2 linked regions of the Homo sapiens genome follow. The protein of the gene in region 1 interacts with the protein of each later gene in a biochemical or structural test. Each region holds a gene or a part of one and is shown on either strand. Other genes may lie near its edges. The genes, in order: ST7 and DCAF4.

What was found.
Region 2: of the proteins of ST7 (region 1) and DCAF4, one has a biochemical effect on the other in vitro, tested with the Homo sapiens proteins (one study listed by BioGRID).

The regions. Positions count from the first base shown.
Region 1 is NC_000007.14:116,948,514-116,956,815, reverse strand, and holds the start of ST7 (suppressor of tumorigenicity 7 protein), read right to left. Parts: upstream 3,316-8,302; 5' UTR 3,276-3,315; coding exon 3,125-3,275; exon of another isoform or gene 2,482-3,124; intron 2,356-2,481; exon of another isoform or gene 2,137-2,355; intron 1,843-2,136; exon of another isoform or gene 1,663-1,842; intron 394-1,662; exon of another isoform or gene 93-393; intron 1-92. UniProt on the Homo sapiens protein: May act as a tumor suppressor.
Region 2 is NC_000014.9:72,936,005-72,943,624, reverse strand, and holds part of DCAF4 (DDB1- and CUL4-associated factor 4), read right to left. Parts: intron 5,676-7,620; exon of another isoform or gene 5,655-5,675; coding exon of another isoform or gene 5,647-5,654; coding exon 5,555-5,646; intron 3,824-5,554; coding exon 3,723-3,823; intron 3,406-3,722; coding exon 3,248-3,405; intron 1,881-3,247; coding exon 1,801-1,880; intron 632-1,800; coding exon 529-631; intron 1-528. UniProt on the Homo sapiens protein: May function as a substrate receptor for CUL4-DDB1 E3 ubiquitin-protein ligase complex.

The sequences.
Region 1 (8,302 bases):
TTACAAACTCATTCATCTTTCTTATCATAGCACCTGTTATAGTACATTAGGAGGCATCTAAATTAAAAAAAAATCGAGTTAAGCTCATTTACCATAAAATATGATCAAATGAGGATTAAAATTGTCACAGATGGTCAAGATATTGAGAAGATACCAAGCAGATATCCAAGAATGACTCCAGAACACTTTTAGCAGATTCCATCCCCCTACAGGTACAGAGCTGGGCCTATGGAAGCCCTGGCTCCTGGCTGCCTGATTGTGATGGTGTCTTTGGCTTCCTTGAGGAGGAAGGGAGGCCTGCGCCATCTGCAACTCCCTAAAAGCAGCTCCAGATTCAGTAACCTCTCCAGGAACACACTTGCCTTCATCACAGGAAGAGTAAGCACCACAGGGCTGAAGAACAGCAAAGTTAGTCCCGTTAGAACTCTTTTAGACCTCCCTGCAAGGACAAGTTAGACCAGGCTAGCTCCTGCCTCCCCTCTCAGGGGTGCTGGCTAATGACTTCTTTCTCCCTGGGCCTTCCTTGCCAATAACTTCAGTACAGAAACTTTTTCCCAAAGGGGAGGGGAATTGGCAAGGAAAGGAGGGAATTAAGTTGACAACAACCTTTTGGCAGTTTTCCTACTATAACTTCTCACTGTTACTTAAAAGGGAAGAAAATAGGCCTCTAATGTCTGCAACTGTTTTTTGAAAAACCTAAACTGTTCTAGGGTGGTTTGTGGCTATAATTTCATGTCTCAAAATTAATGCCAAAGTCCTCCTCCCACCCCAGATCCTGCTACCCTCTCATAAAAACAGCAGAGAGGTGAGTGCTCTCTGTGTGCTTCCCCTTTTATCTTTCTTTATGACTGAAATGAGCATGAAACCAAACTGAAAAGTCCAGCATCATCAGGTCTTCTATCATGTGTCTAGCAAGGTACAGCCCGGATGGCACGTTCATCTTCATATTTTCGCTATCTCTTAGAACTGCCCCTACACAAATTAACAAAGGCATCTCTGAGAAATGCTAGATTTAAATTGCTAGAAGACCTAACAATGCCCTTCCTTAAGAAGTACACATTTTCCCAGTAGATATTTTGCTTCTTGCCTGATCTGCACAGAGCACTGGATGTGACACTTACACATATATACATGGGTAATTATTTAACCTGATGAAAATGTGATATACAAATGTATATCATGAAATAAAATTTTAAGTGTGTAATAAGGAGAAACATTAATATTTTAAAAACTAGTGTGTTTGAAAATCCCAAGTGCAAAAGTGTTGAAAGGTGGGACCTGTGAGTGGTAATTAGGTCATGAAGGCTCTGCCTTCAAGAATGAATTAATTTTGTTATTGAGGGAGTAGGTTTGTTATAAAAGTGAAAGTGGGCCCCCTCTTGTTTTCTCATGTTCTCTTACCCTTCCACCTTCCACCAAGGGATGACAGCAAGAAGGACCTCCCCACATGCCAGTCCCTTGATCTCAAGACTTCCCTGACTCCTGAACTACAAGAAATAAAATGTGTTCTTTAAAAATTACCCAATCTGTGGTATTCTGTTACAGCAGCACAAAACAGACTAACACTGTTACCAACAAATACGTAATTCCATTAAAACATATATTCAAACAACTTCTTAAAGGTATAGAACTTTGAGACCAGAAGGTATCCTGGAGACATACTTGTCTAAAGCGAAGAAGACAATATTGCGACAAGCAGCCATCCAAAAAGATGAAAAGCGAGAAAGCCATGGTCTTTCCGATGACAGACTCAAAAGGGCTGAGCAGCACCTATTCAAATGGTGAGACAATTCTAGAGTGCTGAATCCTATCCGCCTCCCAGGGACACGATCCCGAGGGATACTACAAAACAAATGTAAATATGAACATGAGTTCAAGTTAGTAATCAAAATACTTAAGTTAGTATCTGAAAGGTACAAGTTTCCTAACAAAATGAGTACATTATCTCAAGCGTTTTAAAAAGCGTTTTAATGCAGCTAAACACCTGAGGAAAATGCATTTCCAGACTTGCACTCCCAGAGTATGGAGATTAACAAGGGAAGATATATATGTGTACATATGTATATATCTTCAGGACTGTAAGAATTTCCCAGTACTGTGAAATTAAAATTTAAAACAAAAACAAAAACACTCTACCTTGAAATTTCCAGATTTAAAGGACTGTAACCCTTAGCTCGAAATTTACTTTGTGTTTCGGAACTCTCTGGAGTGTTAAGGCTCGTGTGTTTTCTTTGCGGGTGTTTTTTTAACGACTCAGTGGGCTGGCTCCAAGTTTGTGAAGATCCTGTTAATTACCTCCTGCATTTACCACCGACCAAGGATGGGAGGCACGCGGCACTTGCTGAGCATATGTAGCTTTACAGGGAAGGGAGACGAGCAAAGATCACTGAAAACTGCAACCGAAACCCTCAGAAATTCCAGCTCTCCCCTCTTCCCTCCGGTCCCTTCGACAATCCATTTGGTGACCTGACACGTCATCCATACACTCCCAAGAGTGCCTTCGGGAACCCCTCTCCCCACTACCCAACCAGAGAGACAGCCCCACGCCCGGCAAGACGCAACTCCGGGCCACGGAGGGCGCCGCCCGGACAGCCCGGCCGGGTCAGGGGGCTTCGCCGCCGAGCACCCTCCGGCAGCCGCCCTCGGGCCTCCGCGGCCGGGCGGGAGGGCGCCTCCCCGACCACACTTCGGCCGCTTGGCACCCACAGCCGGGAGGGCGTGAGGAAGGACTCGGTCTAACTCCGGGGAACCCTCGGAGTTCCGGCGCAGACACCCGAGGGGGTGTCCTGGGAACTCCTTCGCCCGCGACACCCGTTCTTCTCCGTCTCCCGACCACCAGCGACGCAGCAGGGCGGCTGCCGGCCCGGCCCGGCCCGCCTTGCGGGCTGTGCGCGGCGCAGCTCTTCCTCCGCGGGGCCGTGAAGGCCACCGGCCGCCCCCGCGCGCCCAGCTGCCCGGCCCCGCCGCCTAAGCCGCCGCGTTGCTGGCGGGTAGCCGCGGGCCTCCGGTGCGCGGGCCCCGGCGCGTCCCCGAGCGCGCGCCTGGCCGCGGCCCCGCGCGAGTTGCACTAACTTTCCGGGGCGGGGGAGGGGTGGGCGCCGCGGGCCCGGCTCCCAGGCCTTACCTGTGCTCAAGTTGTCGTTGATTTTCAAAGGCACCCGCAGGATGTAGACCAGGAATAGCACGATGAAGAACCACACGGTCCACAGATACGTCCAAGACCAAACTATGCAGGACTTGAGCTGCTCCAGAAAGCCCGTGGCCGCTTCAGCCATGTTTCAGCGCTCCTCTCTGCTGCCGCGGCTCTTGGTGTCTGCCGGGATGATTCACCGGCCCGGAGGCGCAGCTCGCGCCGCCGCCGCCGCCGCGGCCCGGGCGCCCCCGGAGCCCGCCCGCCGCCGGGGACGCGGGCTCGGCGGGAAATCGCGCGGGCCGCGGGCGCGCCGGCTTTTCCTTCTCCAGCCTTATTGCTAACTCTCTAAAGGTCCCTACAAGTGGCTTTCGTGGAGCGATCACGTGGCCCCTGCCCCCTCGCGTTCTGGGTCCATTTATATTTATTATGCTAATATTTAGAAAGAGAAGGCCAAGTGGCGCGCCGAAGGAAACGCCTCAGGCAGTTACAACCCGCATAAGTTGAGCGTTTACCACACGCCAGGCGCTGCTCCACGATCCGTACAATCTCATTTAACCCCTGCAACAATTCCCCACTACGATCCTCTTTCTATAGGTAGGGAAACTGAGGCTCACAGCAGCTGCGTAGTTTACCTTAAGGTGGAACCAAAATTCAATTGCAGTGGTGTATTCTGGGGTCCGAGGTCTTAAACCCTACTCTGCTCCCTTATCAGGATTCAGGCTCAGGGAATGAATAAACCCGGGACAGCTAGGAGAAGGGAGGAGGTGCGCTCCTGTCGCCGGCTAGTAGGCCTGAAGATAAATCACTCTATTCAGCAAGATTTGGGTGGCAGATGCTATTTACCTTTGTTCTGTCTCTTTGAAGCAGCGCAGGGATTTTCCAGAGAAATCTTGACAGATGAATGTTTATCCTCCAGGTTTTTTGGTGATCAGAGGTCAAACTATTCTCAGCCTGTTTTTAATATAAACAATTCTCTGGGATAATTTTGACTGTGAAACGGCCACCTCTAACAGAAAGTCCATTTTAAACATTGTTTTGTTGTTTTTGTTTTGTTTTGACTGTGCTGAATAAAATGTTTCTTTTATTCTAAAATGTTTTCTCAGCTGAAATTTTCAAGTCTGTTTCTGTCCGTAAGTGATTTGACTTTCTATGTATTAGATGGTAATGAGGAAATTGCAGGTTTTCCAGTCTACATCTATTTTTAAAATTCTGAGCATAAAGAATATTTTATTATAAATTGTTTTGCTTACTTGTATAATAGTTTCCTTCATAATTAAATAAGCTCCTTTAACTTTTCACATATAGGGCCTATTACGGCATACATAATGGATGGAACTACTCTTAAATTTTTACTAATTCCAGCCTCTCTCGGCTACTGTTTCTTCCTCACATTTGATCTACTACAGTGAGATCCAGGCCAGAATAAGTGAAATTGGCACACATAGACTTTCTTTATAGTTATTTATGGCAGCACATGACCAAATGATTTTTGTGTCTAACACTGATACATGGAATCTCAGTAAAATAAAACAATATTGTCACCAGTAAAGGATCGTGACTGCAGGTTGTCCAGGTTCTTGGCGTTTTGAACAAAGAATTGGACAAAACACCCAGAGAAGCGACAAAAGAACGAAAGCAGGGATTTATTGAAAACGAAAGTACACTCTACATTGTGGGAGCGGGCGGAGCAGCGGCTCAAAGGCCGAATACAGAATCTTCTTGGGTCCAAATACCCCCAAGAAGTTTCCCTTTGGCAACTCATGCTCATCTCACGTAAATGAAGTGGTAGCCCGCAATCAGTCTGACTGGTTGCAGAAAGCAGCCAACCAGAGGCTGAAATGAAGATACAAAGGTAACACTCCTGTGCAAACATCTGATTGGTTGCAAAAAACAACCAATCAGAGGCTGGGATGTACTTAATGAAGTTATGCTTCTATGCAAACGAAGACTCGCCCACAGTCTGATTAGTTGTGGACAACAACCATTCAGAGGCTGGAGTGAAGTTACAAAGTTGCAAATGAAGATTGGACCCGCAGTCAGTCTGATTGGTTACAGACAGCCAATTTCCCATCTACTAGGCAGAAAAGGTCAAAGGTAGCCTCTGGTCCTTTTGTTACTTAGGCGTGGAAAGTTAGGGTTTTCCTTTCAATGTAGTTCAAGGAAGTCCTTAGTTTCCCTGCCTCCAGAACCTAGTCTCCTGCCTCAACATGAGTACATGAACCACCTATTTTATGTGATGATTAAATAACCCACCAGATTCTCTGCGAGTCACTGAATTAGGATATTGACTACTTAATTTAAATGAACATCCGGAGGCCTGGCTTTTTGCTGTCAATGAACTTCAATGAATGGACATGAATATGACTCCGCTAAGTCACAATCTTCTAATTTTCTACTAGGCGCTCCTGGGAAGTCAGCCCTATATCATTGCCTCTCCTGGTGTGCATCCTGGCATGTGGTGGGGACTGTACACATGCCTTTGTGCTTCAAAACACTTCAAAACAGAAGTGAGTAAGCATAATCTCTTGCAAACTGTGGCTGCTTCAGTATAGCTGGAGTGCAGCCTCTGCAGAGTGGTGTGGATACAGACAAAGCTAAAGATACAGGCCTGAGTCATTTTGAAGGGCCTACTAGAAACGCTAAGGTGTTCATAGTTATGGGGCATTGCACACACCAATCCAAATGACCAACTCAGAGATTTATTTAAGTGGAGATTTAAGAAATATTAAGGAAGTAGATGGCTCACGCCTGTAATCCCAAAACTTTGGGAGGCCGAGGTGGGAGAATCACTTGAGTCTAGGAGTTTGAGAACAGCACAGGCAACACAAGGAGACCTTGTCTGTACAAAAAGATTTTAAAAATTAGCTGGGTGTGGTGGTGTGTGCCTGTACTACCAGCTACTCAGGAGGCTGAGGTTGGAGGATCACTGGAGCCTGAGAGTTTGAGGCTTTAGTGAGCTGTTATTGTGCCAGTCACTCCAGGGTGAGACCTTGTCGAAAGAAAGAGAGAAAGAGAGAGGAAGGAAGGGAGGGAGGGAGGAGGGAGGAGGGAGGAAGGAAGGAAGGAAGGAAGGAAGGAAGGAAGGAAGGAAGGAAAAGGGGAAGGGAAGGGGAGCGAGAGAAAGGAAAGATAGAGAAAGAAAAGAAAGGAAGAAAGAAGAAAGAAGGAAGGAGAGAGAGAAAGAAGAAAAAGAAAGGAAAGAAGGAGGAAGAGAAAAAGGGGAAGGGGAGAGAAAGGAAGGGGAAAGAAAGAAAGAAAGGGAGAGAAAGAAAGAAGAAAGAGAAAAGGAAGGAAGAAAGAAAGAAAGAGGGAGAGGGGGAAGGGAAGGAGGGAGGGAGGCGGGGAGAAGGGGAAGAAGGGAAGAAAGAGGCAGAGAGAGAAAAATAAAGGGAAGGAAGGAGTGAAGGAAGGAGAGAAGGAAGGGAGGAAGGAAGGGAGGGGAGGCAGAAGTGACAGGCCTTGGTGACTGATAAGACAGGCAGGGCAGGCCTGGCGCAGTGACTCACGCCTGTAATCCCAGCACTCCTTGGGAGGCTGAGGCAGGCAGATCACTTGAGGTCAGGAGTTTGAGACCAGCCTGGCCAATATGGTGAAACCCTGTCTCTACTAAAAATACAAAAATCAGCCGGGCATGGTGGCACGCACCTGTAGTCCCAGCTACTCGGGAGGCTGGGGTAGGAGAACTGCTTGAACCTAGGAGGTGGAGGTTGCAGTGAGCCGATATTGCACCATTGCACTCCAGCCTGGGTGTAGCAGTGAGATTCTGCCTCACACACACACACAAAAAAAAACAGGCAGAGCACGGATAAGGGGGGGGCTCTTGAGTGGGACCGTTAATGAAATAATGACACCCCAGATATGCCTAACTACCTCTTGATAATCACCCAGTGGAATGGCACACAATCACCAAGCTCATCACATGCAGAATGGAATGCATTACCTCTTCACCCTCATCTGTTCCTTTTAGAGTTCCATCAAGGAATGGGCACCATCCTTCCAGTTCCCTAATTCAGAAATCTGAGCATCATGTACCTCCTTTCCTCTCTATATTCCACTGTACATCAAGACTCAGGCCGCCACTTCTCTCAGCCTTTGGTGATAGCCTGATCATCATTCATAGAGAACAAGGCAGTGGGCTCCCTGCCTCTATTTGCACCACGGCAAGCACCACCACTGCCTCCTTCCATCCACTTTCCACACTTCTCTACCAGTTACCTTTTAAAGCACAAATCCGATAACTCGTTCCTTGCATAAAATTATTTAAGGCCCCACCCCTACTGCACTCCTACTTTTATCCCAGTGTCTAACTAAAGGATGGAATCTAGATGGTATTCAGGCCTTCTGCAAGGGCACTTCTGCCTACCTTAATAGCACCAGCATTTTGGCAAACATGCTATTCTCTTTCACACTTTTGGACCTGCTCCACACAACCTGCCTGTAATACACTTCTCTGTGCTCCACTTCCCTGACCAACATTCTTTCCTGCGTCAACTGCCTGATAACGGGTTATTTAGAGAACCACTTGAAATACCACCTCCTTGGTAACACCAGCTCCCTCCACCCCCTGAGCTCACGGTCTCTTCCCTGTGAGATGCAGCACCAGGAAGGTCATTAACAACCAGGTTTAGAGTAAACAGTGCTGGGCTGTATTTCTGATCCTGCCTTTCCCTAACTGGGTGCTCTTTGGCAAGTTATTAAGTTACTTCATCTGTACAATGGGTTACACTTATGCCTTTTACATATGGTTGTTGTGAAGATTGAGTGATATGCATACCAAAAATGCTGAGCAGAACACCTTGTCCATATCTTTCCTCTCTGTTATTAAATGGAGGCCTTTAAGGTTAAGTAATTTGTTATTGTTGTGGTTAATTTTAGTCCTCTGAATTTTAATCTAGTACAAATTGTGCTGCATTTGGCACATGGTACATGTTCATGAATATTGAGTGTTGTATAAAGGAATGAAAAATCAATTACATGAAAAGAAATTCCAAATCTTACATTTTACAAACACAGACACAAAGAATACTAAGATTTAACTCAGGGGCAAAAGTTAAGATTTGGCCACCAGCACGTGGTGAGCTTCCTTGAAAGTTTGTTTCTGGCCGGGCACGGTGGCTCACACCTGTAATCCCAGCACTTTGGGAGGCCGGGGCAGGCGGATCATGAAGT
Region 2 (7,620 bases), on another chromosome or scaffold:
GGGTCCAACCCAAACCAGAGAAGGCCTTTCACCCCCTGCAAATGATGTAATGGAGGTGTGTTGATGGGAGGTGCCACTGAAGCCAGGGGCGGCAAGCAAGGAGTCCTACCCTCTAGTGACCAAAGGCACACTGGGCTGCAGGTTTAGCCACCAAGTCCTGCCCCAGTTCAGGAAGAAGCAGATGTCCCCAGGTCCACTGTGAGCCTTTTTAATTGCATATACAACACAGCCAAGGAGAAGTTATTGTGTAAAGTTCAGTAGTCAAGGTGTGGCTGGGTCCAGACTCTGACGTTAAACGACGGAGCTGAAGTGGGGGGTGATGATGGTCGCCCCACAGCCTGCCTGCCAGCTCAGCGTCTCCCAGCGGGTAGCCAGCAGGCAGGTTAAAATCGTACAACCAAGAAGATGCCACCTACTTTCATTGCAGTTGGCTTCTCCAGAGCCAGGTTTGATGACTGGCAACGCTAAGCCACAAAGTGTCCAGAGGGTGGCAGCCACACCCTAGGCAGGTGTCCCCCTCCCACTCACCAGTATGAGGTTAAATCGGTCGCTTGCCAAGGCGGAGGGATCCATGCTTCGAATCTGGACCTTTTTCCTCTCCATGCAGCTGAGACGCAGCTCGTGGGCTAAACTGCAGAAACAGAGGGTGGGGGCATGGATGCTGAAGCTGACATCCATGAAGAAGATTCGGGGGTCTCTGGCCTTCCCTGCCCCGCTGACGCCCATCTCTCCTCGTCAGCCTGCTCCACAGTACTTCTCAGCAATGGAGCTGAGCAAGATCCCAGATTATCCGAATTTGAGTTTCCCCACAGAACGCTCAGGAAGATGAAAATGAAGAAGTGGGTGGCCCATTTGCAGAGTCAAAGAGTGGGAGTTAGAGGGAGTTGTGTCTGCATCATTCAGTACAGCTCCTTCCCCTGAGATGACGAAAGTGCGGGAGATGAAACAATGGTCTGGAGGGCACTCCGCTGCTGGGAAGAGCCCCAGGATACGGCTGCCGGGAAGAGCCCCAGGATACGGCCGCCTCTTGTTTCGCAGGGTGAGGAACAGATCTAACTAGATTTTTAACTTTCTGTCTCAGAAGGAGGAAAACAGGAGGGGCCTGCCCTGCCTGATACCTACGGTGTTTCTGGCCTTCCCTGAAGGGGCCCTGCTCCAAGGTCCGAGGGCTGTGCCCCAGGAAGCTGCCTCAAATGCAGGTTCTTCACTTGAGCATGTACAGTGGGGGCAGGAGACGCAGCGCTGGGCGCTCAGGTGTTGGAGTCAGACAGTTCCCCACTTCTAGCTTTACCTTGAGCAAATCACTCCACTCTGAGCCTCAGTCTCTTCTTCAGGAAATGGGGGAAAGTATCGGCCTATTTCACAGGGTTTTAGTTAGAATTGTATCAGCCATCATAAGTACTTTGATAAGGTTTAGTACACACACATCCACTTAATGCCCCATTGTTGGTGACAACTCATTAGAAGGGAAAGAAGGATGCAGAAATGTCATGGGAATGAAGTTGTAGGAGCTTCTACTAGAATGACTTACGAGTAACAGAGAATAGACATCTCTGCCTACGTCCCCATCCTCTCTCCCTATCCTCCTGCAAGAGTCCCCCGCCTTCGCTCTAGAGAGAACAGCTTTCTCAGGGTGGGTTTAAGCAGCAGAAGGCAGGGTGTGAACTGGAGCCCCTCAACTGTGCAGGTGCTTCACGGGGTAGCCACATGGTCTATCCAGACTGGATTCTTATACCATGAAAATAAGAAACAGGAAAAGAACATTCATGAAGAAAACATAACAAAGAGGCATTGTCTTACTGGCAGTAATTGGTGACGTTGAGAAAACCCAGCTGGCTTTTTCGTAGCATGGAAGATGCATTAAATCCCATCCTGGCAATCTATATTTATTACAAAAAAGAGAACAATTCAATGAAGATTTATTTGTTAGGGGATGATGGAGAATGTTTTTAGTTCCATAGGATGTAATGAAGGAAACAGGCACTAAATTGGCAGAAATTATATGCATAAAAATCTGACGGTGTCCTTTCCAAGTCTCCCTTCCTCGGCAAGAGGAAAGGCCCAGCAGAAGAAAGTGTGAGTGGGAAAGTCTGCTCGTCAACTCTGCCCACGCTCCCCATCCACATACACCCGGGGGGACGAAGCCACCAGGTGCGTGAGTGCAGCAATGGGACTGCAAACAGGTCTGCACCACTCTCCATTCCACCCGTGGTGACCCAGGGCTGGAACTTTACATTCCATTGCCTACCTTGACAACAAAATATGTTAGCGTCTAGACCTGTTGGTCTGTATTGCAAACAGACAAGATGGCCTGTATTCCAAACCATGCATCCTGGTCTTCTATTTAAAATAGACAGCTGGGATGGGCATGGTGGCTCACACCTCTAATCCCACACTTTGGGAGGCCAAGGTGGGCGGATTACTTGAGGCCAGGAGTTCGAGACCAGCCTGGCCAACATGGTGAAACTCCATCTCTATAAAAAAAATACAAAAATTAGCTGGGCATGGTGGCAGGTTCCTGTAATCCCAGCTACTTGGGAGGCTGAGGCAGGAGGATCACTTGAACCTGGGAGGCAGAGGTTGCAGTGAGCCGAGATGGCGCCACTGCACTCCAGCCTGGGCAACAGAGTGGGACCCTGTCTCAAAAAAACCCCAAAAAACAGTTACTAAAATTATATCACACTGCCTCCCAAGATTCCTTCAGGAATGACAAAATGTTAGAACTGCTGAAGAAGGCTGGGTGTGGTGGCTCACGCCTGTAATCCCAGCACTTTGGGAGGCTGAGGCAGGCAGATCACTTGAAGTCAGGAGTTCAAGACCAACCTGGCCAACATGGTGAAACCCTGTCTCTACTAAAAATAAAAAAATTAGCTGGGCATGGTGGCACGTGCCTGTAGTCCCAGCTACTCAGGAGGCTGAGGCAGGAGAATTGCTTGAATCTGGGAGGTGGAGGTTGCACTGAGCTGAGATCATGCCACTGTACTCCAGCCTGGGCAACAGAGTGAGATTCCGCCTCAAAAAAAAAAAAAAAAACAACTTATCGAACAAGAAAACGGGGATGGAAGAAGGGGGCTCTTGGCTGTTCTTATTCTTGTCTTCTTCCTGTCAGGGAAAAGCTAGGGCCACACCCCCTGAAGTGCCTCTGCTAAGTGTCGCAGGGGCATCTAATTGGCACCCTTTTCAACAGTGGATGGACAGGTGCTGGCAGGAGCGGAGAGGACAGGGGGCGAAGGGGTGAGGAGCCCACCTTTTTCCGTCTGTCTTCTTCCTGGAGCAGCCGCAGTCTCTTGCTCTCCATCTCCTTCTGCCGGATGCTCTCTTTCGTCAGGGGGTTGCAGTTGTTATGTCCAGGGAGCAAGCGGAAGTAGCGTTTCTTTTCAGGGTCAAAGTAAAACCCAGGTAGCTCTTTAGACAAAAAAATTAAATGCACCAATTTCAACCACTGTGAACTGACCACCTGAGTTGGGCGCCCAGTGGCCTGTCCCCCCACCTCGTGGCTGCCTGTCTTTTCTGAGGGCGGGGATGAGCTGCCTTGTCAGGCAACATCCTGGACTGTGCTCAGTCCTGGGGGAGGCGGTTTGCCTCATGACCACCATTCCTGACGCACCCAGCTCCTTCCCTGAGTGTTTCAATTTGCTCCTGGAATTCCTTCCAAGCCAGGAACGGGTCTCAGCCTTCCCTGTGTGCAAGGGCCAGGATTCCCACCCCGCAAGTGGCCTTACCTGGCACAGAGGAGGTCCCAGCTGTGCCAGACGAGGTTGACGGAGACTCGTCATCACCGTGGCCGGAATCGTGAGCGGGCTGTGCTGCCCGGGAGTCAGACCTGTTGACACACAGCTGTGTTAACTTGCAGCCCAGGACTTGAGTTCCAGCCATTCTGACGGGGGCAGGGAGTCCATTCGGGCAGTTCTGCAGCCTTCACCTCTGATCTCTGACCTTTCTGATTACTTGAGAAGCACTGATCCCCTCTTGCAAATACAACAAAATAGGGCAAGGTTTTGGTTTTTCATTCTTTTTTCTTTCTTTAAAAGAGGACAGATGTCACAGTGATTCCCTCTTCTTATCTTCTCACTCGCGCATTTTGTGAGGTCTTGTGGAATTTTCCAGATTAAAAGGAAAAATAGAAATCTCTGCCAATAAGAATTTTACCAGCTGGGCTCATTTGTCAGCACAACAGCAGTTACAAGGCTAGGTGAATTTCATTCTTTATTGGATTCAGTAGCACAAAGAGTTTAAATTTTACTTGACTACACAATCTTACAGACAGAGAAACTGGGGTTTGGGGGACAGAGGTGATTAGTTCAGTAACACTGGGATAGAGCTGCGGCTAAAACACTTGATTTGTAAATCCACAAGTAGCTTCTGAGGGAATTATAGGCTGAAGGATGTAGTAAAGGTGTGTGCCACCACACCCAGATAATTTTTATATTTTTAGTAGAGACGGAGTTTCGCCGTGTTGGCCAGACTGGTCTCAAACTCCTGACCTCAAGTGATCCGGCTGCCTTGGTCTCCCAAAGTGCTGGGATTACAGGCGTCAGCCACCACACCCGGCCCAGCCAACTTTATTTTAAAAATACATTTAATGTAGCCTTGGCCTGGGTGGTGGTTCAAGTCTGTAATCCCAGCACTTTGGGAGGCTGAGGCAGAAGGATCACTTGAGCTCAGGAGTTTGAGACCAGCCTGAGCAACAGAGTGAGACCTCATCTCTTAAATAAATAAATAAATGTAATGTAGCCTGGTGTACAGGGTTTTAAAGTCTACACTAGCATACAGTAATGTCCTAAGCCTTTGTGTTCACTCATCACTCACTCACTGACTTCCAGTCCCGCAAGCTCTGTTCACAGGAGTGTCATACATAGGTATACCATTTAAAAAAAAATCTTATATACCCTATTTTTACTGTATCTTTTCTATGTTGAGATACACAAATACCACTGTGTACTGACTGCCTCTAGCATTCAGTAGTCACATGCTGTACAGGTTTGCAGCCTCGGAGCAATTGGCTACACCATATAGCTTAGGTGTGTGTGGCTGGCTGTACCATGTAGGTTTGTGTTACGTATGTGCTATGATGTTTGCATGACACGACTGCCTAACAACATATTCCTCAGAATGCATTCCTCCTTGTTAAGCGAAGCATGAGTGTATATCCTTGTCCGAGACTTAGGCTGAATTAATAAAATTTGGTTTCCACAAAGGTATTTGCATAAAAAGTCTACAAAATGGAGAAACGGTTTTCCAGTTGTTTCAGATAACGTCTACCTCTAGCTTTATGGCGAATGCTCTGGCCAGAGGTCGTGGTCACTTAGGAAAGAACAGAGAGTGGTCCTCTCTCCTCACTACTCAGTGAGGTGGGCTGACCCACCAAAGCGACATGCCCTGGGAGCACGTTAGGAAGGCAGGCTCTCCTCAAGACCCCTCAGACCTACAGAATCAGAACCTGCATTGGGACGAGCCCCCAGGTGATCTCCACACCTGTGATCGTGTGACATGCCATGTGTACAATGCCAGAAGCACACTGGGCAAAAGTGGCTCCCCAGAGCGGCACACTTGCCTGTCTTCAGAATCACGGAGTCTGAACCAAGGGTTCTGCTGGTGGCTTCTTCTCCCATGTCGTCTTCTACTCTGCCAGCGACTTTTATTCATTTCTGTTCCTAAAAGAGAAAAACAAAAAAATCCATACATCTCTGTGTGTGGGCATGGGCTTTTCTGTTTGCTTCTTGGCAGCTGCTTCATGCTCAGCACCAGCAAAAGGCTGGCCCACCCTGGGTTATCATCAGATTTGCCACAGCAAGCCTTACCTGGGAAGGGCTGCCTCCAGCACTCCCCCAACATCCTTCCCACTTCCTTCCTGTTACCCTTAGTCGACCACATAGTTTCCTACCCCACAGAAACGTTGCCAGGTCGGCCAGGCGCGGTGGCTCATGCCTGTAATCCCAGCACTTTGGGAGGCCGAGGCAGGCGGATCACGAGGTCAGGAGTTCGAGACCAGCCTGACCAACATGGTGAAACCCCATCTCTACTAAAAATACAAAAATTAGCCGGGAGTTGTAACGTGCACCTGTAATCCCAGCTACTCAGGAGGCTGAGTCAGGAGAATCGCTTGAACCCGGGAGGTGGAGTTTACAGTGAGCTGAGATTGTGCTCACTGTAAACTGCACTCTAGCCTGGGCGACAGAGCAAGACACCATCTCAAAAAAAAAAAAAAAAAAAAGAAAAGAAAAATTGCCAGGCATGAAACCCCTAACTTCACTCCCTTCTGCTCCACAAATACCTGCCTTTACTAATTGTCTTCTTCCTTGTCTTGGACAACAGGTATCACTGCTCCTTTTCAAGGGAGACCCATCCCACCTGGCTGTTGATTTCATTCCTTCCCAGGAACTGCAGACATCTATCTGTTCCCCCATATGTTAATGTCTCCTTCTCCTTATCTCAGCTTTTAAAAACATGCCCAGGTTTTTCATTTGTAAGTGTTCCATTTCTAATCCAAAAAAATGGGCATATTCTGAAAGAATGGTCTACATCTACGAATTCAATGTCTTCATCTCCCGATATTCCTCAACCCACTGCAGTTGAGCTTCCTCTCTCCTCGCCTTTCTACTAAAATGCTCTTGCTATTGATTACCTACTTGCCAAAGTGAGTGGTCTCTTTTTAGCCCTTATTCCTGCAACATGTGGCACCAGGAGGCTACATTCTTCCTTTGGCTTCTGTAATATCTTTCTCTTGGTTTTCTTCTTGCTAAATAAATCCTTTGCTCATTTCTCCTGGGTCACACACCCTGTATGTGCTTTCCATTGTTCTGTCCTAGATCCTTTTCTTTTCAGACTTAACACCACCTCATCTACCAATGCAGATGCAGCTCCAACCCTAATATCGCTACTGAGCACCAAGTTCCTATGCTGCTTCGTGTCTATCTCCACAGACCCAACAGGTTCAAAAGTGAGTTCATGATTTCTCTCTAACCCCCGATCTGCTCTTTTGCCTGTCTATACCTCTCTTCTCTGAAAGCAATATCCCTGCCCCTGCAGCCCAAATGTGTGTGTATTTTTTTTTTTTTTTTGAGATGGAGTCTCGCTCTGTTGCCCAGGCTGGAGTGCAGTGGCGCCATCTCAGCTCACTGCAACCTCTGCCTCTCGGGTTCAAGCGATTCTCCTGCCTCAGCCTCCCGAGTAGCTGGGACTACAGGCACCTGCCACCACACCCAGCTAATTTTTGTATTTTTAGTAGAGATGGGGTTTCACCATGTTGGCCAGGCTGCTCAAGAACTCCTGGCTTCAAGTGATCTACCTGCCTCGTCCTCCCAAAGTGCTGGGATTACAGGCGTGGGCCACCAAGCCCGGCTCCAAAACTTTTATCTTATTCATTGTCCTAAACAATGGCTCCTGAACACCATGTGTGGGTTTCCCTATGGATCAGTTATCTTATACCCCAGCTAAAGAATACAGTTGTATTTATTAATAGTTAAGTTACAAGCTGAAAGGGACTGCGCACAGGAAGGGAAGCACGTGTGGCCAGTGTTAAGACTGGTAGGAAAATGGCTGCGTGCAGTAGCTCATGCCTGTAATCCCAGCACTTTTGGGAGGCTGAAGTGGGAGGATCTCTTGAGCCCAGAGTTTGAG